Linked DNA regions of Homo sapiens. The protein of the gene in region 1 interacts with the protein of each later gene in a pairwise test. Each region holds a gene or a part of one and is shown on either strand. Other genes may lie near its edges.

Evidence for each region. The genes of interacting proteins can lie anywhere in the genome.
Region 2: the proteins of CNKSR1 (region 1) and CYTH1 interact in binary tests that used the Homo sapiens proteins (3 or more experiments, as listed by UniProt).
Region 3: the proteins of CNKSR1 (region 1) and CYTH4 interact in binary tests that used the Homo sapiens proteins (3 or more experiments, as listed by UniProt).

What each region holds. Positions count from the first base shown.
Region 1 is NC_000001.11:26,172,560-26,180,493, reverse strand, and holds the start of CNKSR1 (connector enhancer of kinase suppressor of ras 1), read right to left. Parts: upstream 3,004-7,934; 5' UTR 2,947-3,003; coding exon 2,895-2,946; intron 42-2,894; coding exon 1-41. UniProt on the Homo sapiens protein: May function as an adapter protein or regulator of Ras signaling pathways.
Region 2 is NC_000017.11:78,779,272-78,786,826, forward strand, and holds the start of CYTH1 (cytohesin-1), read right to left. Parts: upstream 3,003-7,555; 5' UTR 2,953-3,002; coding exon 2,931-2,952; exon of another isoform or gene 2,785-2,930; intron 1-2,784. UniProt on the Homo sapiens protein: Promotes guanine-nucleotide exchange on ARF1, ARF5 and ARF6. Promotes the activation of ARF factors through replacement of GDP with GTP.
Region 3 is NC_000022.11:37,285,491-37,292,509, reverse strand, and holds part of CYTH4 (cytohesin-4), read right to left. Parts: intron 1-7,019. UniProt on the Homo sapiens protein: Promotes guanine-nucleotide exchange on ARF1 and ARF5. Promotes the activation of ARF factors through replacement of GDP with GTP.

The sequences.
Region 1 (7,934 bases):
CCAGTCCTCAAAGGGATAGTCCTGCAGGGAGTCGTCAAGACCTGGAGGGAGAGTAAGGCTCAGCTCGGGGAAGCAGAGGTGTCAGGACCTTTTGGGATGGTTCTTCATGCCTGCAAAGCTCTTTTCCCTCTAGTCTAACCCTAATGACAACTCTGACACCCAGGCTGTTCTGCCCATTTCACAGATGAGGCCACTGAGTTGAGAAGCAGGAAAGTATAGGACATGGGTTCTTAAAAGTGGCCCCCAGACCAGCAGCAGCAGACTCACCGGAGAACTTGTTAGAAATGCAAATTATCAGGCCTCACCCCACACCTGCTGAATCAGAAACTCTGAGGTTGGGGCCCAGCAGTCTTTTTTTTGTTTTTGTTTTGTTTTTTCTTTTTGAGACAGGGGCTTGAGACACAGTCACGGCTCACTGCAGCCTTGACCTCCTAGGCTCAATCCATCCTCCCACCTCAGCCTCCCAAGTAGCTGGGACTACAGGCACACACCACCACACCCAGCTAATTTTTGTATTTTTTGCAGAGGTGGGATTTCACCATGTTGCCCAGGCTAGTCTCGAACTCCTGGGCTCAAGCAATTTGACTGCCTCAGTCTCTGAAAGTGCTAGAATTACAGGTGTGAGCCACGACGCCCAGCCAGCAGTTTGTATTTTAATGCAGGTGACTGTGATGCTCCCTTAAGTTTGAGAACTAATGATACAGGGGATAAGAACAAGAGGCTATGGAGTCACTGAGACACTGTGAACACTTGAGCAAGTAATAGCACTGCTCTGTGCCCAGTTTTCTCACCTGTAATGTGAGAATAATAAAAGTACCTACCTTCTAATCATGTGTGTATTGAATGACACAACATATGTCAAGGCCTTGGCCACTGTCTGGTTCGTGGGAGACAGCCAATAATAGCCATCATATTATTATTGCCAGACTTTACCATGACCTACAGGCCCTGTATGATTAGGCTACTACCTCCCTTTCCAGCATCATATCCTGAAGAGCCCCCTAAACTCAACATTTCAGATGCACAGAGCTAATTCCTTGCAGCTCCTGGAACACCCTTTTACCTCAGCGTCCTTGCAAGTGCTATTCCTCCTGCTGGCGTTGCTCTTCTATCTCCTTCACTTCCTTTTTCATCTAACTTCCTCCAGGAAGCCTTCCATAACTTCCCAGGCTGAGTGGGATGGAGGGCTCTCCTCTTGTTCCCACTGCCCCTGAGCCTCCACAAACCCCTGCACTTGACCATCGGTCTTTCCCATTTTATCACAGGCTCTTCAAAGATCAGGCCTTAGATAACCATTTGTCTCTAACCCCCGGCCTGTGCCTGGACAAGGTAGGCACTGAAAAATAAGAAAAGTGTCTATTGAGGGCTTACTATGTGCTATGCAAATCTATAAGAGCTTTACACATATTAACACATTTGATTCTCACTGCATTTCTAGGAGGTAAAGACTATCATTATCCTGCTTACAGATGGGAAAACTGACACAGAGGTTAAGTAGCTTGCTCACTCTTCGAAGGAATTCTTCCCCTTCTAAGCCAGGCTCCTTCACTGGGGGAGGTGTGTGTGTGTGTTCCCTGTGTCACATTGAGAGCACTGGACTGGGAGTTCATGAACCTATCACTCCCTGGCTATGGGCCCCTGAGCCACCTCCTTCCTGCACGGTGACTGTATTGGGCTGGTGCCCTCCCAATAGACCCAGGCATTGAGCTACAAATGAACTATGTCATGATTGTCTCACTTTGTCGACTTCATAAGGTCAGAGTTGCCTTTCCCATTTGATGGACAGAAAAACTAAGACCTATGGTCACAGAGCTGGCAAGCGGTGGGGGTGGGCCTGGAATCCAGCCTGGGAGTCTGAACCCAGCCCTGAATTCCTGCCCTTACCCGGGCTGGTCCTCCTGAGCCTGTCTCTAGTGCGCTCCAGCTCCCCACTCTGGGAGGGGTGTCCTGACTGCCTGCTCCTGGTCGCACTGTGTGTCAGGAGGCCCTTCCTTCTCTGAGTCTGCCTGTGGGGTGTGTTGCTTCCCATCTGTGTGGGCTCGCTGAGCCTGGACAGCACCTTGCCCCTTGGATAGGAGCCCCAGGGTGGGGCTGTGTCAACCTCTTCAGTCTGGCCTAGGGCTTCTGCTTCTGTCACTAGGAGCTCAGGGTGTGGAGCGGGGAAAATGACACCAGAGACTGAGCAAATCATTTCCTGGCTCTGTGTGTCAGTTTCTGACTCTAAGAAACGGATTTAACAACAGCCCACTGGCCCTGGGGCCAGGGAAGATGAAGGAGATACAGTGGGTGTGGGCCTGTCAGGCCTCCCTCCTGTTTTCATGACACCGCCTCCCCATTATCACCCTAGAGGCCTCTTGGGCTACTGCCATGATGAGGGGCCCCCTTCTGGGTCCTTGGGCCCCCCAGGGTCATCTCATCTGTCTCTCTGCCCAGCACGGTTCCTGGAACATGTTAGGTGCTCTGTAAATATTTGTTGACTGACTGACCGACTGATAGAGCCCGCAGTTTATTATTTTTTTTTTTCTTTTGAGCTGAATCTCGCTCTGTCGTCCAGACTGGAGTGCAGCGGTGCAATCTCGGCTCACTGTAACCTCTGCCTCCTGGGTTCAAGCGATTCTCCTGCCTCAGCCTCCCAAGTAGCTGGGATTACAGGCACCTGCCACCACCCCCAGATAATTTTTGTATTTTTAGTAGAGACGGGGTTTCACCATGCTGGTCTTGAACTCCCGACCTCAGGTGACCCACCCACCTTGGCTTCCCAAAGTGCTGGGATTACAGGTGTGAACCAGCGCACCCAGTCCGCAGATTTTTTTTCCTTTTCCTCTCCTCCCGCTTCCCGGTGGGACACCACACCTAGTCCCCTTCAAGCCCAACTCTACCCCAGCCCCACCCACCTCTCAGCCAAGTTGCCACCTTTCCGGGGGTCCAGGTCTCTACCGGTTCCATGGCCCAGCTCTGCCAGCTCGAATCAGCTCCTGTTTTGCCCTGCTGTCGCCGGAATTTCCGCTCCCAGAGCCCAGGCCTAAGGAGGGGCCGGGCTGGGTCCTGGGCGGAGCCTACTGCATACCTGGGCTCACACAGACGGCAAGATGAGGCACTGCGACAGCCATTGGCCCACGCCCGTCCGCCTCCTGCCCGGCCCTTCAGACATCCTAGGGCTCTGGCATCTCGCGCCTGCTAGGGGGCAGTGCCACTGGCCTCATATCGCGGGGTGGGACCCTGACCCTTGGGCTCCTCAAGAAAAAGCCACAAGAGGAGCGCTGAAATCAGTAGCAAAGCACAGAGGCTAGGGGGCCAGGTCCCTGGGTGCCTAGGCCAGCTCTTGTTAGCTGTGTGACCTGGGGCTGACCCTAACTTCTGCGCCTCAGTTTCTGGGTCTGTAAAAGAGATATAATAGACCGTACTTCAAAGGGCAGCTGTGCACAGTATCTGAATGGCTTGAAAACATTTAGAACTGGGGTGTTTAGCCTCCCTTGGATTTTGCAGTATGGACTCTGGCATCTGGTGAGGCCTGTGAATGCTTTCTCAGAATAGCTGCTTATAAAGGCATAAAACAGGCCGGGCGCGGTGGCTCACGCCTGTAATCCCAGCACTTTGGGAGGCCGAGGTGGGCGGATCACTTGAGATCAGGAGTTCAAGACCAGCCTGGCCAATATGGTGAAACACCATCTCTACTAAAAATACAAAAAATTAGCTGGGCGTAGTGGGTGCTTGTAATCCCAGCTACTCAGGAGGCTGAGGCAGGAGAATCCCTTGAACCCAGGAGGGGGAGGTTCCAGTGAGCCAAGATCGTGCCACTGCACTCCAGCCTGGGCAACAGAGCAAAACTCTGTATTATAAATAAATAAATAAATGCACAAAACAAAATGCTTAGGATTACAATGAGAACAATTATCAAAACTATATTTAAAAACAAATTTGGCCGGGCATGGTGGTTCACGCCTGTAATTCCAGCACTTTGGAAGGCCAAGGCGGGTGGATCATGAGGTTAAGAGATGGAAACCAGCCTGCCCAACATGGTGAAACCCCGTCTCTACTAAAAATACAAAAATTAGCTGGGTGTGGTGGTGCACGCCTGTAGTCACAGCTACTCAGGAGGCTGAGGCAGGAGAATCGCTTGAACCTGGGAGGCGGAGGTTGCAGTGAGCTGAGATCACGCCTCTGCACTCCAGCCTGGCAACAAAGCAAGACTCCGTCTCAAAAAAAAAACCCACAAAAAACAAAAAAAAAATTTGGAGCTGGGGAGTGCTGGCACACGACTGTAGTCCCAGCTACTCGAGAGGTTGAGAGGTTGAGCGGGGGAGTATCACTCAAGCCCAGGAGTCAAAGCCACCCTGGGCAACATAGCAGGAGCCCATCTCAAAAAAATAAAACCAGAAATTTATATTATGTGTTTACTAACATTAATAAGACTGGCCGAAAGTTAAATTTTTCTTTTTTAATGACCTCAGTGTGTTGTCGACCAGCTTGAATAAGGACATTAAACTGTGGGGTGGTCTTTGACGCCCCTCCTCTTACATATTGATCAGCAAACAACTAAAAACAGGGAATGCTGGGCCGGGCATGGTGGCTCACGCCTATAATCGAGACGGGCGGATTATGAGGTCAGGAGATCGAGACCATCCTGGCTAACATGGTGAAACCCCGTCTCTACTAAAAATACAAAAAATTAGCCAGGCATGGTGGCGGGCGCCTGTAGTCCCAGCTACTCAGGAGGCTGAGGCAGGAGAATGGCGTGAACCCAGGAGGCAGAGCTTGCAGTGAGCCGAGTTCGCGCCACTGCACTCTAGCCTGGGCGACAGAGCAAGACTTCGTCTCAAAAAAAAAAAAAAAAAGACAGGGAATGCAGAAGAGTGGAGAAGCCCTACTCAGAACAGGCAGATTCGCCCTTTGGTCACTGAACCACTGCTAAGCCTGGAGGTAACCAATTAATGGCGGCTACATCACAGGAGCATCTGAAACAGAAGTTGCTCACGAACAATTTAGTGGTGGTTTAACAACCACTGTGATTTTGAAATCACTTGAGCATAAATATTTTGAGATACTTGCAATAACTACAATTTGATATGAAAATATGTGATTTCTATTGGTGACTAAGCCAAAGATACTGCTACTGCTTCAATCCATATAGAAGGAAATCATAAATTTTGGTTAGAGTTTAGCAAAAATAAAAATATAATTTTTTCCCATCCAAGTTTATGGATCCCCTGAATTCTGAACCTCAGAGCAAGAGCTTTAATCTTAGAAAAATATCTGACACATAGTAAATGTTCATTTTCATCATCATCATCAGGTCAGGGGACTCCCAGGACTTTAGAATCAGATAAAATCAGCCGGGCGTGGTGGCTCAGGCCTGTAATCCCAGCACTTCAGGAGACCTATGCGGGCGGATCACCTGAGGTCAGGAGTTCGAGACCAGCCTGACCAACATGGAGCAACCCCATCTCTACTAAAAATACAAAATTAGCCGGGTGTGGTGGCACATGCCTGTAATCCCAGGTACTCGGGAGGCTGAGGCAGGAGAATTGCTTGAACTCATGAGGTAGAGGTAGCGGTGAGCTGAGATCGCGTCATTGCACTCCAGCCTGGGCAACAAAAGTGAAACTCCACCTCAAAAAAAAAAAGGCCGGGCGCGGTGGCTCATGCCTGTAATCCCAGCACTTTGGGAGGCCAAGGCGGGTGGATCATCTGAGGTCAGGAGTTCGAGATCAGCCTGGCCAACATAGAGAAGCCCTGTCTGTACTAAAAATCCAAAAAATTAGCCGGTCGTGGTGGCGGGCGCCTATAATCCCAGCAACTCGGAAGGCTGAGACAGGAGAATTGCTTGAACCCGGAAGCAGAGGTTGCAGTGAGCCGAGATTGCGCCACTGCACTCCAACCTGGGCAACAAGAGCAAAACTCTGTCTCAAAAAAAAAAAAAATCAGATAAAATCAGTTCCATACTCAACTGCTATGTGACTCAGCCCAACTTCTACAGCTCTCTGAATCTGTTTCTTTGTCTCCAGAAGGGGATTCCTAGGCCTTAGCACTGTGATGACATTAAGTACTTTGAAATCTGTATCATGGGGTAGATATGAGTTATTATTGCTTTAATTCTGTGGGGAGGAGCTACCTGTTGTCACCTACTTCAGAATTTCTGCAGCACCCCCAGTCATCAAAGCCTGTCACGACCTTACCTGTAACCCAGAGACCCAAAGTCTGAATTTCGCCCATGGTTGGCCCATGTAGTGTACGTGTGTTGTCATCATTTAATAACGTCACATCCAAATTGAGATTTCCAGCTTCTCTGAACTTGGCCAGCTCTGGTGATGCCATCCCACCTTCACACTTGGTATTAACAGCCTCTTTCATTTTGTGAGCCAGTTGGCTTCAAATTTGCAAAATGCCCGTCTCCAGCTTTGTCTTTTGCCTCAGGTCTGTGTCCCTTGAACACTCCGTGCTGCATCCTCGTTTAACATTTTTGCCTCTTCATGCAGCAGCCTCCCTGTGGCACTCTGGGGAAGTCCAGTAAATTCTAATAGAGCCTTTATCAGTGTTCGGTAGACAGATCTTGATTTCATCAAATATCTTTCCTGAGCTGCCACCAGAGGTGAGAACCAGCCCCCTCTCTCCCTGAACCACGGCGCCTTTACTCTACGCTCCCAGCATCTGCCAGGGTTAGGCAGTTAGGAACACAGTAAGTGGCAGCTTCTATTTATTTTTATCTATTTTTTTGAGACAGAGCTTTGCTCTTGTTGCCCAGGCTGGAGTGCAATGGCATGATCTTGGCTCACTGCAACCTCCGCCTCCCAGGTTCAAGCTATTCTCCTGCCTCTGCCTCCCAAGTAGCTGGGATTACAGGCGTGTGCCACCATGCTCGGCTAATTTTGTATTTTTAGTAGAGATGGGGTTTCACCATGTTGACCAGGCTGGTCTCAAACTCCTGACCTCAAGTGATCTCCTTGCCTCGGCCTCTCAAAGTGCTGGGATTACAGGCGTAAACCACCACGCCCGGCTGACAACTTCTATTTTAAAGGGTTTCATTTTGTTTTTTGAGAGAGTCTTGCTCCGCTGCCCAGGTTGGAGTGCAGTGGCGCAGTCTTGGCTCACTGCAACCTCTCCCTCCCAGGTTCAAGTGATTCTCGTGCCTCAATCTCCCAAGTAGCTGGGATTACAGGTGTGCGCCACCACACCCAGCTAATTTTTTTATTTTTAGTAGAGACAGGGTTTTGCCATGTTGGCCAGGCTGGTCTCGGACTCCTGACCTCAAGTGATTCACCTACCTTGGCCTCCCAAAGTGCTGGGATTACAGGTGTGAGCCACCATGCCCAGCCTATTTTAAAAAGCTTTATGAATATAAAGTTCTACATATTTGCTGTATACATTTCAAAGGTAATAGGTTAAGTGAAAGAAGGATGTGCCCTTTCCCCAGTGTGTCTCTATCATGTTCCCCAGTGGGGGCCACTACTAAATTTGGGATATTCTTCTATTTTCTATATCTGCAGATAGTCTACATACTATTCTGCAAATTGTACTTTTTCTTTTTTATTTTTATTGGAGACAGGGTCTGGCTCTGTCACCCATGCTGGAGTGCAATGGTGCAACCTCAGCTCATTGCAGCCTCCACCTCCTGGGCTCAAGTGATCCTCCCACCTCAGCCTCCTGAGTAGCTGGGACTACAGGCATGCACCACCATGCCTGGCTAAATTTTTTTTTTTTTTTTTGGTAGAGATGAGGTTTCACCACGTTGCCCAGGCTGGTCTTGAACTCCTGGGCTCAAGCCATCTGCCTGCCTCAGCCTCCCAAAGTGCTGCCCAGCCATACTTTTTCATTTAAGAGATAATCGATAGCAAATGAAATAATACAAGTTAAGTGCTTAGAACAATGACTACTATTTTTAACGTATCACGGGCAGCTTCCTTAATTGGTATATGCAGATATGCTTTTATTATTGT
Region 2 (7,555 bases), on another chromosome or scaffold:
TGCCTGTAATCCCAGCTACTCAGGAGGCTGAGGCAGGAGAATCGCTTGAAGCTGGGAGGCAGAGGTTGCAGTGAGCCGAGATTGCGCCATTGCACTCCAGCCTGGGCAACAAGAGTGAAACTCCATCTCAAAAAAAAAAAAAAAAAAAAAAAGAAAGGGGAAGAATAAACTTACAAACTTTCTCATCTTCGTGTGTGGCAGACAGAATAACAGCCCCTAAAGAAGTCCGGGTACTAATCCCCAGAACTTGTGAATAGGTTACCTTACATGGCAGAAGGGGAATTAAGGTAACAGATGGAATTAAGGTTGCTAATCCTTAGCCTTGATTATCCAGGTGGGTCCCACTATAATCACAAGGATCTTAATAAGAGGGAGGTAGGAGGTCGAGAGAAATGAGAAGATGCTACCTGCTGGCTTTGAAGATGGAAAGGGGACTATGAACCATGGAACACAGGTGGCCTCTAGAAGCTGGAAAAGGTAAGGAAATGGGTTCTCCCCTGAGCCTCCAGAAAGAACCAGCCTGTCCGACACCTTGGCTTTAGCCCAGTGAGACCTATTTTGGACTTCTGACAGCAGAACCCTAAAACAAATGTTATGTTGTTTTGAGCCACCAGGCTTGTGGTAATATAACAGGTATAGGAAACTAACACGCCCTGCTTCCACTTACCTCTTTCAAGTACAAGTTCATGTCATGCCTGGTGGCAAAGCAGTCACTGTATTAAAAGCAACCAGACCAATAGCTTCCTGCCCACGGCAGCAGGCAAGAACACAAGAGAGGCCACAAAAGCCTGGTAGGCAGGACACTGGGATCTGAGGGAAATTAAATGGCAAGAGGAGGCAGAGAAAAGAGCAGCAGGCAAAACTGCTGTCGGCTTCTCAGCAGTGGGCAGGAGTGAAATCTGGAGGGGCTGAACAATCTTTTGGGGCCAGCCAGTGGGTGATTTTTCTTTTAATCACAAAAGGAGGCTGGGAGCAGTGGCTCATGCCTGTAATCCCAACACTTTGGGAGGCCAAGATAGGAACTGGAGTTCACACCAGCCTAGGCAACATAGGGAGACCTCCCTCTCTACAAAAAGAAATAAAAATAATTAGCAGGGCGTGGTAGCCCAGGCCTGTAGTCCAGGTTACAGGAGGGGCTGAGAAGAGAGGTGAGAGGATTGCTTGAGCCAAGGAAGCAGAGCGTGCAGTGAGCTATGAGAGCGCCCCTGCACTCCAGCCTGCGCAAGAGAGCTAGACCCTGTCTCAAAAACACAACAAAACAAACAACAAAAAAATGCACAAGCTGCTTTTACTTGTTTACTTATAAGGTAACAAGTGGGCTGGGTGTGGTGGCTCAGGCCTGTAATCCCAACACTGTGCGAGGCAGAGGTGGGAGGACTGCTTGGGTCTAGGAGTTCAAGACCAGCCTGGGTAACATGGCAAGACCCCATCTTTTAAAAAAGTAAAAAATTAGGGCTGGGCGCGGTGGCTCATGCCTGTAATCCCAGCACTTTGGGAGGCCGAGGCGGGTGGATCACCTGAGGTCAGAAGTTCAAGACCAGCCTGGCCAACATGGCAAAACCCTGTCTCTACTAAAAATACAACAATTAGACAGGCGTGGTGGCACGCGCCTGTAGTCCCAGCTACTCAGGAGCCTGAGGCAGGAGAATCGCTCAGCTCACCCAGGAGGCCGAGGTTGCAGTGAGCCGAGATGGCGCCACTGCACTACAGCCTGGGCGACAGAGTGAGACTCCGTTTCAAAAATAAAATAAAATAAAATAAAATAATAAAATAAAATAAAATAAAAAATTAGCCGGGCATGGTGGCGTGCGTATGGTTCCAGCCACTCAAGAGGCTGACGTGAGCTACGATCACGCCACTGTGCTCCAGCCTGGGTGACAGAGCGAGATCTCGTCTCTTAAAAAAAAAAAAAAAAGAAAAATGTCCCATTAGTTATTAAACTAGAATTGGGTTCCATTTGGCCACAGAGTTCTGCTTTATTTGTACTTTGCTACCAAACCACAAAAGTTCACCACTTGTTCTATTTGCCATTCTTCCTTTTAATTCCTCATGAACAAACTTAATAAATTAACTACAGCATGTCAAACAACCTTTTGCAACCCTTGCAATTTCAAACTCTTGGAGGGAGGCACCCCTGGCCTGGGCCAGCAGCCTCAACGCGCGGGAGCGAAGGGAGCGGGACAGCGGCTCCGCTTGCCAAGTCCCCAGTCAGGGGAGGAGCGGCGTCCCCACCGCGGTGCCCCTCGGGCTCCACACCCGCGTCTCGGCAGGCGGCGACGCACCGGACCGGCGGCTACCGGGCCCAGACTCCCGCGGGCAGGGCCGTCCCGGAGCCCGCGCCTCGCCGGCGGCGCCGCTCCCCGTTCTCATTTCTGAACAAAGACGTGGACCGGGCACAACTCGCTGACGCCGAGAGCGGCCGGAAACTGCGGGGAACGCGGGCCCGGCCATCCGCGCGTCCGCCCCGAGCCCCGCAGAGGGGCGGCAGGGCCAGCGACCTCCACCCCTCGGCCCCCCGGGACCCGGACTGCGACCCCTGCCCCGGGGACCCCAGCGACCCCAACGACTCTCATCCCTCAGAGCCCCTGAGATCCTGCCCCGCGACCCCAACGACCCTCATTCCTCAGAGCTCGCGGCGACCCCTGGCCCCGCGAGACCGCGAGCCCGGCCTGTGACCCCCGCCCCAGCCACCCACATCCCTCAGCGCCGCCAGCGACCCCGGCCCCGGCGACCCTCATCCCTCAAAACCCCCTGCGACCCCCGCCCCGCGAGGGCCCCGCGCACCGCTCGCCCGCCGGTCGCCCCGGGCTCCGCGTCCCGCACCAGTGTCCCCGGGAAACGCCAGCCGCCGCAAGCGCTGCCGGACGGCCGGGCCCGGAGGGGACTGGGGGACAGCGAGGGGGAAGCGTCCGCCGCCGGGGCGCACTGACCGTAGCTGTCGTCCTCCTCCATGGTGCGGGAGCCGGGCTCCGCGCTCCGGCTCGCCGCTCGCGTCCCGCCGCGCCACCCGCGCCCCCGCTCGCCTCAGCCCGGCTCGGAGCCCCGCCCCCGGCGCCCCGCGCCCCGCGCCCCGCCCGCCCGCGCCTGCGCCTGCGCCCGCCCCCTGCCCCCGGCCCGAGGCCCCGCCCCTCGCCCGAGGCCCCGCCTTCCTCCCGCGCGCGCCGCACCCCGGGTACCCGGCCTCCTCCCGAGGCTCCGGCCTGCGCACGCGCGTCCACCCGAGGCTCCTCCCCTGCCCCCGCCTCTAGACCACGCCCCCGTCCCGAGACACACACACCCCCCCCCCTTCTCCCGGTCCGCCTCCTGGGGCCGAGCAGGTTTCGGTTTCTGAAGGGCGGTGCAAGTCCCCGGGGTGGCGGACTCGACCTGGCCTGCAGCCAGGCTACTGCACGAAAGCCCAAGGTCGTGTCCGGCCACTGAAGGGCAGGGTGGTCCTTGCTGACGCCAACCTGGAAGGTCAGACCCGGCCCCAGCTTGCCAGGGAGGGCCCGGTCCTTGGCGAAAGGCCACAAAAGCTATTTGAAGTCATTTACTCCTGCGTTCAGAACCTTTACATGCTGTATGTCCTAAGTTTACTGCTTCTACTTCTTTTTATTTGTCCTGAGTTTTACCTGGGTCAAGATTGAAAGGAGGGCACTTCAAGTCCCAGCGTTTTGGATTTTATTTATTTATTGGAGACGAGTTTCGCTCTTGTTGCCCAGGCTGGAGTGCAGTGGCCCGATCTCGGCTCACTGAAACCTCCGCCTCCCGGGTTCAAGCGATTGTCCTGCCTCAGCCTCCTGAGTAGCTGTGATTACAGGCATGTGCCACCAGGCCCGACTAATTGTATTTTTAGTAGAGACGGGGTTTCGCCATGTTGGCCAGGCTGGTCTCGAACTCCTGACCTCAAATAATCCGCCTGCCTCGGCCTCCCAAAGTGCTGGGATTACAGGTATGAGCCACCGCGCTCGGCCTTCTCTTTCTTTATGACAGAGGACAATCCCACTGCTGCAGAATGCCAGCACCAGAACCCCCCTTTCCCCCTGCAGTCACTTGTGGCTCCTGCACCCTACACAGAACACTCACTGAGAACTCCACAGAGATCCCTGGACTGCTGGGAATTTTTTGGACCAACCAAAAAACGGGAGTAAAAGCCACAGAACTCTTTCCTTGTGGGCCCACCTGTCCTGAGTTTTACTATTTTTCTTTTTCTTTTATTTATTTATTCATTTTGAGACAGAGTCTCACTCGCTGTGTTGCTCAGGCTAGAGTACGGTGGCACCATCATGACTCCCTGCAACCTCTGCTTCCCAGGCTCAAGCAGTTCTCCCACCTCAGCCTCCTGAGTAGCTGAGACTGCAGGCACCGGCCACCATACCTGGTTAATTTTTGTATTTTTTGTAGAGACGGAGGTTGCTAGGTTGCCCAGGCTGGTCTCGAACTCCTAGGCTCAAGTGATCCTTTCTCTTTGGTCTCCTTCCTTGGCCTCCCAAAGTACTGGAATTACAGGCGTGAGCCACCACGCCTGGCTGGATTCATGATCTTAACCTTCACTGACTTTACCAGATTGTCCAGTTTTACAGGTGACCTTAGAGAGTCACATTTTGGCCCTAACGTGTCCTTGGGCTTCGGCGTGTGAGGTCAGAGACCCAGCTGCATTTTGTTCCTCTTGGCCTAGACTTAGGACACTTTTAGAATTGACCCCACATTGACCTGGCAAATCTTCTCAAACCATCTGTCACATGGGCTAATGGAGCACTGAGCCTCTCCCCCAGTATTTGCCATCCTCTGTTTCACTCCCTACTTCACTTCTAACCCCAGACTCACCAGAAGGTTCAAGGTATCTTCGAGCTGGCTTTCTTCCCTTATCAGTATGCAAGTCCCAGACCACCTCAGCTCTTGCTCAAAGACCAGAACTCCAGAAGAAAAGCGATTCAGATGGCATGTTAATTCTTACTATCAGCACTCTAGACCTCTTAGCTGAACTCACCAACTGAATAGATTTGGAGAGGGAGGGATACTGGTATTACTGCTAATCACAGATTAGCAGAGAACATGACTGTTTACAAATTCTGTTCCCTTATATTGTTCCATTAGACTGGTGTTTTTCAGCTGGGTGAAGTGGTTCATGCCTATAACCCCAGTACTTTGGGAGGCCAAGCTAGGAAAACTGCTTCAGGGCAGGAGTTCAAGACCAGCGCGAGTAACATAGAGAGACCCTGTCTCTACAAAAAATTAAAAATTGTCGAGCATAGCGGCACACGCCTGTAGTCCTAGCCACTCTGGAAGCTGAAGTGGGAGGGATCCTCTGGGCCTGGGAAGTTGAGGCTTCAGTAAGCTATGATTGCACCACTGTGCTCCAGCCTGGGGGACAGAGTGAGACCCTGTTTCCAAAAAAAAAAAAAAGAACAGTGTTTTTCAAACAGCGGGTCATGACTCTTAATGGTTATGAAACAAATACTTATTAGATGAAAAGAAAATAGAATTTTTAAAAAATTGTAGTCTATCACACATAATACAGAGACAGTGTTTGTTCTGGTTGCAAATGAATGCATGCATGTGTCCACTGGGTAGGGCTATCCCTGACCATGGATGACTGTCAAAGAAACACAGAAGCTACTCCATTAGATCACATTCATGATCAGAGATTTTTTTTTTTTTTTTTGAGATAGGGTCTTACTGTGTCATCCAGGCTGGAGTGCAGTTGCACATCTCGGCTCACTGCAGCCTCCACGTAGCTGGGATTACCACCATGTGCCACCAAGCCCAGCTAATTTTTGTGTTTTTAGTAGAGACAGGGTTTCGCCATGTTGGCCAGGCTGGTCTTGACATCCTGACCTCAGGTGATCCGCCCACCTCTGCCTCTCAAAGCACTGGGATTACAGGCGTGAGCCACTGCGCCCAGCCAGAGAGGTCCTTTAGCTGTTATCTTTGCATGACATTTGGAAGCCGAGGCTAATAGACATCCAAATGCAGCCTACTTGCAAGCAGGAGTTAAGTCAGTTTCACTCTCGTATCTTGTATTTGTGCCCCCAGCCCTTGGAGCGTAATGAGAAGGAGCCGGCGGCAGGGAGACAGGAACCACAGGACTCCACTCCAGCTGTGGATTCTAACCCAGACCTCTTCCCCCACATCCACTAATTCTTCACAGAACCTTTAAACTGGGTGTGGGCTCTCTGCAAGTTTCGCTGTGGTTTCTAAGTCCTTAGTGGTTGATCCACTTGACAACTAATTTTTTTAAGTTGGTAGCTCCCTGCGGTATTTGACAGTTTTTGGTTTGGTTTTGTTTTTGAGACAGGGTCTCACTCTGTTGGCCAGGCTGGAGTGCAGTGGCTCATGGCTCACTGCAGACTCCACCTCCCAGACTCCATCGATCTTCCCACTTCAGCCTCCCAAGTAGCTGGGACTACAGTTGCACGCCACCACACCCAGCTAATATTTTATTTATTTATTTATTTTAGAGACAGGGTCTTTCCATGTTGTCCAGGCTGGTTGTGAAATCCTGGGCTCAAGTGATCCACCCACCTTAGTCTCCCAAAGTGCTAGGATTACAGGCATGAGCCTGCTCCTGGCCACCCTCTGGTATTTTCCACTGTTCCTGGCACATACCTCCCTTAGCTCTTGTTACAGTCTTTTGTTATAATGTTGGTTTAGGCCTCAGGAAACAATCTCTCTGGCCTTCTCTTGTTCTTTCACCTGCCCCAAGGCAGGACTTTAATCTTGCCCACCTTTCTGATTGTGGGTCTTAAGACCCTCCCCAGAGAGGGTCCTGCCCTGTGCCCTATGGAAGGAAGCTTCCATAAAAATTTCCATTAAAAAAAAAAAAAAAAAAAGACTGGGCTAGGATAGCTGAACATGTGGAGGTTCCTGGAGGGTGATGCCTAGGGAGGGCTTGGAAGCTCTGTGCAAGGGCCCTTCCCCATCTCTTCATCTTTATCCTTTGCAATATCCTTTATAATAAACCACTAAATGGCCAGGCGTGGTGGCTCATGCCTATAATCCCAGCACTTTGGGAGGCTGTTGTATCACCTGAGGTCAGGAGTTCGAGACCAGCCTGGCCAACATAGTGAAACCCCGTCTCTACTAAAAATACCAAAATTAGCCGGGCTTGGTGGCGGGTGCCTGTAATCCCAGCTACTCGGGGGGCTGAGGCAGGAGAATCGCTTGAACCCGGGAGGTGGAGGTTGCAGTGAGCTGAGATCGCGCCATCACACTGGGGGACAAGAGCGAGACTTCGTCTCAAAAAAATTAAAAACAAACAAAATACTAAATGTAAGTGTTTCCCTAAGTTCTGTGAGTGGCTCCAACAAATTAATCAAACCCAAAGAGCGGGGGTCATAGAAATCCCAAGTTTAAGGTGGTCGCTCAGAACTTCCAGAGGCCCAGGCTTGTGACTGCTGTCACAAATGCAGTCTTGGGGACTGAGCCCTCAGCCTGTGAGATCTGACCTCACTCCAGATAAGAGTCCAAGTTGGACTGGATGAGAGGACCCCCAGGTAGTGTCTGCTGCTTGGTGTGTGGGGATAAACCCCCACGCCTCTGGGCAGAGCAGTCTTCTGTGAAGATTGTTGTGAGG
Region 3 (7,019 bases), on another chromosome or scaffold:
GAGGCCCACCTCCTCCAGGAAGCCTCCCCTGACTGCCCTGTCTAAAGCAGCCCCTGCTCCCTCCTCTCCTGCCCTGCTTCCTGTTTCTCCCACCCCCCTGGATAGACACCCCCAAAAGGATCCTGTTTCCTTGCATCTTTTCTGTCCCTCCCGCTAGACTCTCGGCTCCATGAGAGTTCAGTTGTTCTACTCTTTTGCTCACTACTGTGTCCCCAGCACCTAGAAAGAGTCTGACATGTCATAAGCACTCAGTTAAACACTCGCTGAAGGCACGCATTCCTTCCCCGGAACTTGAATCTCCTCCTCCACTGGCTCATGGGCTCATTATTTATTCACTTATTTATTTGAACAACCAAGAAGTGGTATACCATTTTCCTCACATCCCATTGGCCAGAATGTAGTCACGTGGCCACACCTAGCTGCAAGGGAGGCTGGGAAATGAGCCTGTAGCAGGGTGGTCCTGATGTCCTTACTGTGTAAAATGGGGAGGCTGGATTTGGGGGATATTTTATAGTCCCTGCCCCTGGATACTGGGGCTCAGAGAGGTGAGGTGACTCAACCCACAGGGAAAAGGTCACTGAGCCAGGATGGGACCTTGAATTGGGCTGACTCCAAAGCCTGTGCTCTTTCATCTCCACTTGGAAATGAATTAAATGAAATAAGATTTGTGTGTGCGGCATTCTATGCAAGGTGCTGTGATGATGCCCACAACTAGGTCAGCTGTCCTATCTTCATGCTTCATGGTGGCTTCTGTTTCATCCACAACACTCTCCTTCTCTGAGTAATATGGCCTCCCTATTACTCAGAGAGAAAGTCTTCATCCTGGGCCTGGGGCCTCCACAACCTCTCCAGCCTTGGCAGCCAGACTTATTCCCTGCCATTCCCAAAAAGAGCCTGCCAGTCCAGCCTGCCAGCTCCTTCCTGCTCCAGAGCCATCCAGGACTCAGTCCCACTTCCCCATGTTTGCCCAGGCCGCTCCTGTACTCTGGGATGCCTTCTCCTGTCTGCCTGCCCAAATCCTCGCTGACCTTCAAGTTCCAGCGTCGGGAAGTGCCTGGCCGCATTTCTTAAAGGTTTTACAAGGATAGACATCATTTCCTCCAAAAGAACACAGAGGGAATGTTGAGCGCTCCCTTTCCCTACTTCTCCTTCTCATGATTAAGCAGGCATTGTGGCTGTTGAGATTAAAGCCCCATGCGGAGATGCAGGGCACCAGGCTAGATGGAGCCCAGGTCCCCAGGCAGCGGTGTGGAGAAGACTCATCATGTTCACCTGGCCCACCTATCCATTTGGACTTTTCAATAAGAAATAAATCAGTTTTGAGAATGTTTCGGTTGCTGTTATTCTGAGTCTCTTTAAGCAGCTAAATCTGAGATATACCTAATACAGCATCCTCATCTGTGAAATGTGAACCATAACCCTTGCCTCACAGGGCAGCTGTCAGGAAGGAAAGAGCTACACTTTGTCAAACACCCAGCAAGAATCCAACATATGCTGAGTCCCACATGTGTGCAATGGGTGCTGTGTGCATCTGGCTCTTCTCTTCAGGACCAAGGCACCATCCCCCCAGCTGCTGGGAGGAAAGCCTGCTGATGGCTCACAGCTGAATCCCTCCCCAGACACTAGCCTCAGCCAAAGGGAGGTGCCACGCCCAGGAGTTCCCCTGACCAAGGGCAGCCACTGCAATAAAAAGCCAAGTCCCGGTCAGGCAAGGTGGCTCACGCCTCTAATCCCAGCACTTTGGGAGGCCGAGGCGGGCGGGTCACGAGGTCAGGAGATCGAGACCATCCTGGATAACACAGTGAAACCCCATCTCTACTAAAAATACAAAAAATTAGCCAGGCATGGTGGTGGGCACCTGTAGTCCCAGGTACACCGGAGGAGGCTGAGGCAGGAGAATGGCGTGAACCTGGGAGGCGGAGCTTGCAGGGAGCCCAGATCATGCCACTGCACTCCAGCCTGGGCAACAGAGTGAGACTCTGTCTCCAAAACAAAACAAAACAAAACAAACAAAAAAACCCAAGACCCCTTGCCTGGTTTCAGGACCTACCCCAGTTTTCAGATACAGAACGTCGGGACTGAAGGAGAGGCTGGGTTCCAAGGGAAGAGTCCTGCAACATTGTGGCAAGTATATATGGCAATGACTCCCTGGTTCCACATTAAAACACCTGTGGCCATTCACTCCAACAACTGTACACTGGGGAAAGAGCAATATCCAAACATTCTGAGGATTGTTGGACACAGGATCCAAGTTGACATCAGCGCTCAAGACTGAAGTGTCTTCAGGGCCACATTTGAGTGGGGGTACATAGAGACCAGGTGGTAAATGAAGTCCTTCCAGGTCCAGCTCACTAGGGGTCTGCTTGATTCATGGCCACTTTCCTGGCCTACAGATGTAGAATTGGAATGGACATCGCTGGTACTTGAGCCCATATTGGTACCTTGGCCCATGGGGTCAGGATCATTGTAGTGGGAATAGCTATTTGGAAATTTATGAAGCTGACCCATCATCCCCACAGCGAAGAGACTAAATAAAAAACTATATCCTGAGGGGAATGGCAGGTGTGGGTGCCACTCTTGAGACCTAACGGATGCAGGAGCAATGGCCCTCATCACATACCCAAGCACTTCCCCGGTCGGGAGGATGGCCTGCTCCTTCCAGCTGCTTCCTTCTAGCAGAGAATTATATACTATGCAGAAAACAGTTCCTGGAATGGCACCGGGTCCTGGTAGAGATAGAGTGCCAGCCCACGGAACATCATGTAACTAAGTAGCTCAGATGGCTCCATCTGTCCCACTAAGTCAGAAGGTCAAGCGAGCCCAATAGTAACCCTTTGTGAGTGGTACGTCCAGGAGCAGGTGTGAGCAGAGCCAGAGGGCTCCAGTAGGCTCCAGGGATAGGTGGCCCAGATCCTCATGTCACCGCTGCTGGTGGACCAGGGTCTATCCCTCTGCTTACACCGTGACCACATGGGTGGGTCCCTTATGACTTTCTAACAACAGAGGAAAATGCCCAAGGCTGGTTGCAGAATGAGTTGGCTCAGAGTTTGGGCGCAAGTGAAAACCAGGCAGCTACTGAACTACAGTCCTGCTCAAAGGTGTCCTGGAAAGACAGTGATGAGGGCAAGTCCTCCCAGGGGGCAGGGCTTCAGGCAGGGCACCTGGCCATCCACTTCCTGTGGAAAGAGAAGTGACTTCTTGAAGTCAGAATATCCATGCATCATGGGCAGTGGTGAATGGCTTGACTTCTTGGTCAGAGGCAAGAAAGAAGGAAGATGGGAAGATCAGAAACACAGATGTCAGGAGAAGAGGCAGGTGGATGACCCCGTGGGAGCGGAATGTCCACTCTGCCAGCAACAGGGACGCATGCTGAGCCCATCTTTTCTCCAGAAGACCAGGGGGCAAACTGATTCCATGAAACCCCTTCTATTCTGCAAAAGTCAACAATCCATCTTGTCTGGAGTCGACACGTGTTGGAAATGTGTTTGCCTTTCCTGCCCACAGAGCCTCAGCCAGCACCACTATCCAGAGGCTTAGGGTGTTTGACCCACCAACACAGCACACCACATAACATCACAGAAGACCAAGGGATGCTCTCTACAGCAAAGGTGGTCTGAAGTGAGCACGTGGCCATGAGATCCACCGATCCTCTCTAGCATTTCATCGGAAGGTGCTGGCCGGATGGAATGGAGCCATGGGGCGGTCTTGAGAAGGTACAGCTGAGGTGTCAGCCTGGAGGTGATATCCACTTGGATGGGGCGCCATCCTCCAGGAGGCACCATATGCCCTAAATCTACCACCACTGTGTGGTGCTCTGTCTCCAGCAGGTGGACCACAAGGGTCTACGAGCTGAGGGGTAGGAGTGGGAGTGGCCCCACCTGCCATTCTCCTAGTGACCCACTCTGGAGTTTCCTTTTTTTTTTTTTGAGACAGTCTTGCTCTGTCACCCAGGTTGGAGTGCAGTGACATGATCTTGGCTCACTGCAACCTCTGCCTCCCAGGTTCAAGCGATTCTCCTGCCTCAGCCTCCCCAGTAGCTGGGATCACAGGCATGCACCACCATGCCCGGCTAATTTTTTATTTATGTATTTATTTTTTTGAGACAGAGTCTCACTCTGTCACCAGGCTGGAGTGCAGTGGCACGACCTTTGCTCACTGCAACCTCTGCCTCCCGGGCTCAAGGGACTCTCCTGTCTCAGCCTCCTGAGCAGCTGGGACCACAGACATGAGCCACCATGCCCAGCCAATCTCTGTATTTTTAGTAGAGATGGGTTTCACCATGTTGGCCAGGATGGTCTTGATCTCTTGACCTCACAATCTGCCCACTTTGGCCTCCCAAAGTGCTGAGATTACAGGCGTGAGCCACCGCACTGGGCCAATTTCTGTATTTTTAATAGAGACGGGGGTTTCACTATGTTGGCCAGGCTGGTCTCGAACTCCTGACCTCAGGTGATCCACCTGCCTTGGCCTCCCAAAGTCCTGGGATTACAGGTGTGAGCCACTGTGCCCGGCCCACTCTGGAGTTTCTTTCTGTCTCTGCAGGTCTAGAGGTACTGTTTCCAGGAGGGAGTTGGCGGGGACACTTATACCAGGGGACAAAGCAAGAGTCTTATGACCCGTTAAGCGCACAAACACCTACTCCATGCCAGTCTCTGTATAACTGCTGTCATTTAACCCTCTTTGAAGTAGGTATTTTCCAGTTTGAGACACTGAGGCTTAGGAAGGCGAAGTGACTCGCCCCAGGTCTCATTCACAGGAAGTGGCAGTGCTGGGAACTGCACCCTTGTTTGCTGACCCCCACGCCTCTGCCCCAGGAGAGGTGGATTCCCAAACTGCTTGGGACATGCAGGGATGGAAGGTGTAAGGGGCCACCTGTGTGGAGATGCAGAGCAGGGACAGCCGGGGAGGCAGTGCTGGAAGCTGGCTCCGGAACTCTTCCGGCAGGAGCTGGCGGGGAGGCCGTTGGTCTCATCCATGGGAAAAAACCAATCACCTTGGGTTGCCTTGGAGGTGAACAATCCGATTCTGTTTTGTTTTGTTTGTTGGCTTTATACAGTTTTCCTGTTGGCTTGGGGTTGTGTTTCTGCCCAGGGCGCACCTGCTGGAGGAGGCTGAGTGGATTCCAGACTGGCTGCTTGTCTGAGAGAAGCCAGGGTGGGCTCCAGCATTCCTACAGATGCTCCAAGGTGTGGATGGCCAGAATTGAGTGATGGGGCTCCTGAAGCTCCTCCTAGGCCGACCTTCCTGGTCCCCATGGGGCTTCATCAGCTCCTGGCTCCCACCTGCCTTCAGGGTCCAGGGAATCATTCACACATCCTCTGTTCCAGCCCCTTCTCTGAGCTTCAGATCCAACCATCCCCTATGTATTGGTCACCACCGCTCTTGTCATTGTGCCCAAAATTGAACTTCTAGAATGCCCCCTCCTCCCCATCCTCTTCCTGAATTCCTGAGCTCTGGAAATGGTCCACATTTCCCCAGGAGGCACTCTGACTCCCACCTGGCTGTCACCCCTTGGGTCTCCTCCATCACCAAGTCCTGTCTATTTCTTTCCCCTTCCATGGCTCCACTGTCATCCCAGCCGCTATCGCTTTGCTCAGGGGGACTTCAGGGCTTTCGGATGCCTCCCTGCCTCTTCTACCCATTCTGGTCCAGTTTCCCATGGCATCCCATTGTCCTGGGGACAAAGACCCCAAATCTCACCAGTCCTGCTGGTGTATCCCCTCCATGCTCCTCTCACACTGTGCCCCTCCCCGTCCCAGCTCCGTGCTCTGCCTCCCTGGCTGCCCTTCATTCACTCCCCTGAGCTCTAGCCTTCCAAAAGCCTTTGCACCACCATTCCTTGTACCCAGAACGCCCTTCCTTCTCCTCTCTGCCAGCAGCCCCTCCTTATCTCCTACTTCAGATCCCTTTTCAGGGGTCCTCCTGGGTTCCATCTAGGAGCCATCCCTGCCCCCACCCCTTCCCATTCCCCACAGCGTTTCTGGGATCTGCATGGCTCAATAACCAAGCCACGCCGTTGGTTAAGGAAGGCATGGTGGCTGAGCACCCATGGTGCGCCAGGCCCTGTGTGATCCAGGCTCTTCCCATCCACTCTCATTGAATCCCACAACCACTCCGAAAGGAAAGGTACTTCTAAGCTCATCCTACAGGTGAGGCCCCTGAGACTCAGAGACGTGAAGTGTCCTGCCAAAGGTGACACAGCTGGAGGGTGGCAGAGCTGGGATTCACATCTGGGTCCATCTGGGGCTCGGAGGCTTACAGCCCTGATGTTGATCTTCCGAAGGCTGATCTCTCCATACGAACCATCAAACACCCGTCGGACGCTAAATCTGGGTTTCTGACGGGGTTACACGTTTCAGAATAAAGGCAAGATGCAGAATGATGCCTGCAGTTGCCCCCACCCAACCCCTGCAAAGCCAACTTTGCAGAGCTGGGGAAACTGAGGCACGGTTCCCAGGGGAGTGGGATTGCATGGGAATAGTGAGCAGGTTGCTTGTATTTTTACTGCATACAGCTCCTTTCATACTCCCTTCTGGTTGACAAGTGTGTTCGTGAATCCTCAGTCCCCTGTCCCCTTCTGACGGGGGTCCTGTCCCGAATAGGTGGCAACTGGTCAAAGCATCTGAACCCACATGAGGGTGATGATGGCCCCGGGCTTGCTGTGTCTTACATGGTGCACACGGAGCCTACTGACCCTTCCTCTATTTGTTAAAAAGAGGAGATTCCTCCCCATTTCAGAGTTTCAGGCACCGGTGTAGGCTCATGGGATATGTTTTTTTGTTTGTTTGTTTGTTTGTTTGAGACGATGTCTCTGTCTGTTACCCAGGCTGGAGTGCAGTGGCCTGATCTCGGCTCACTGCAACCTCCACCTCCCAGGTTCAAGTGATTCTCCTGCCTCAGCCTCCCAAGTAGCTGGGATTACAGGCGCCCACCACCAGGCCCGGCTAATTTTTTTTTGTATTTTTAGTAGAGACGGGGGTTTCACCATGTTGGCCAGGTTGGTCTCGATCTCCTGACCT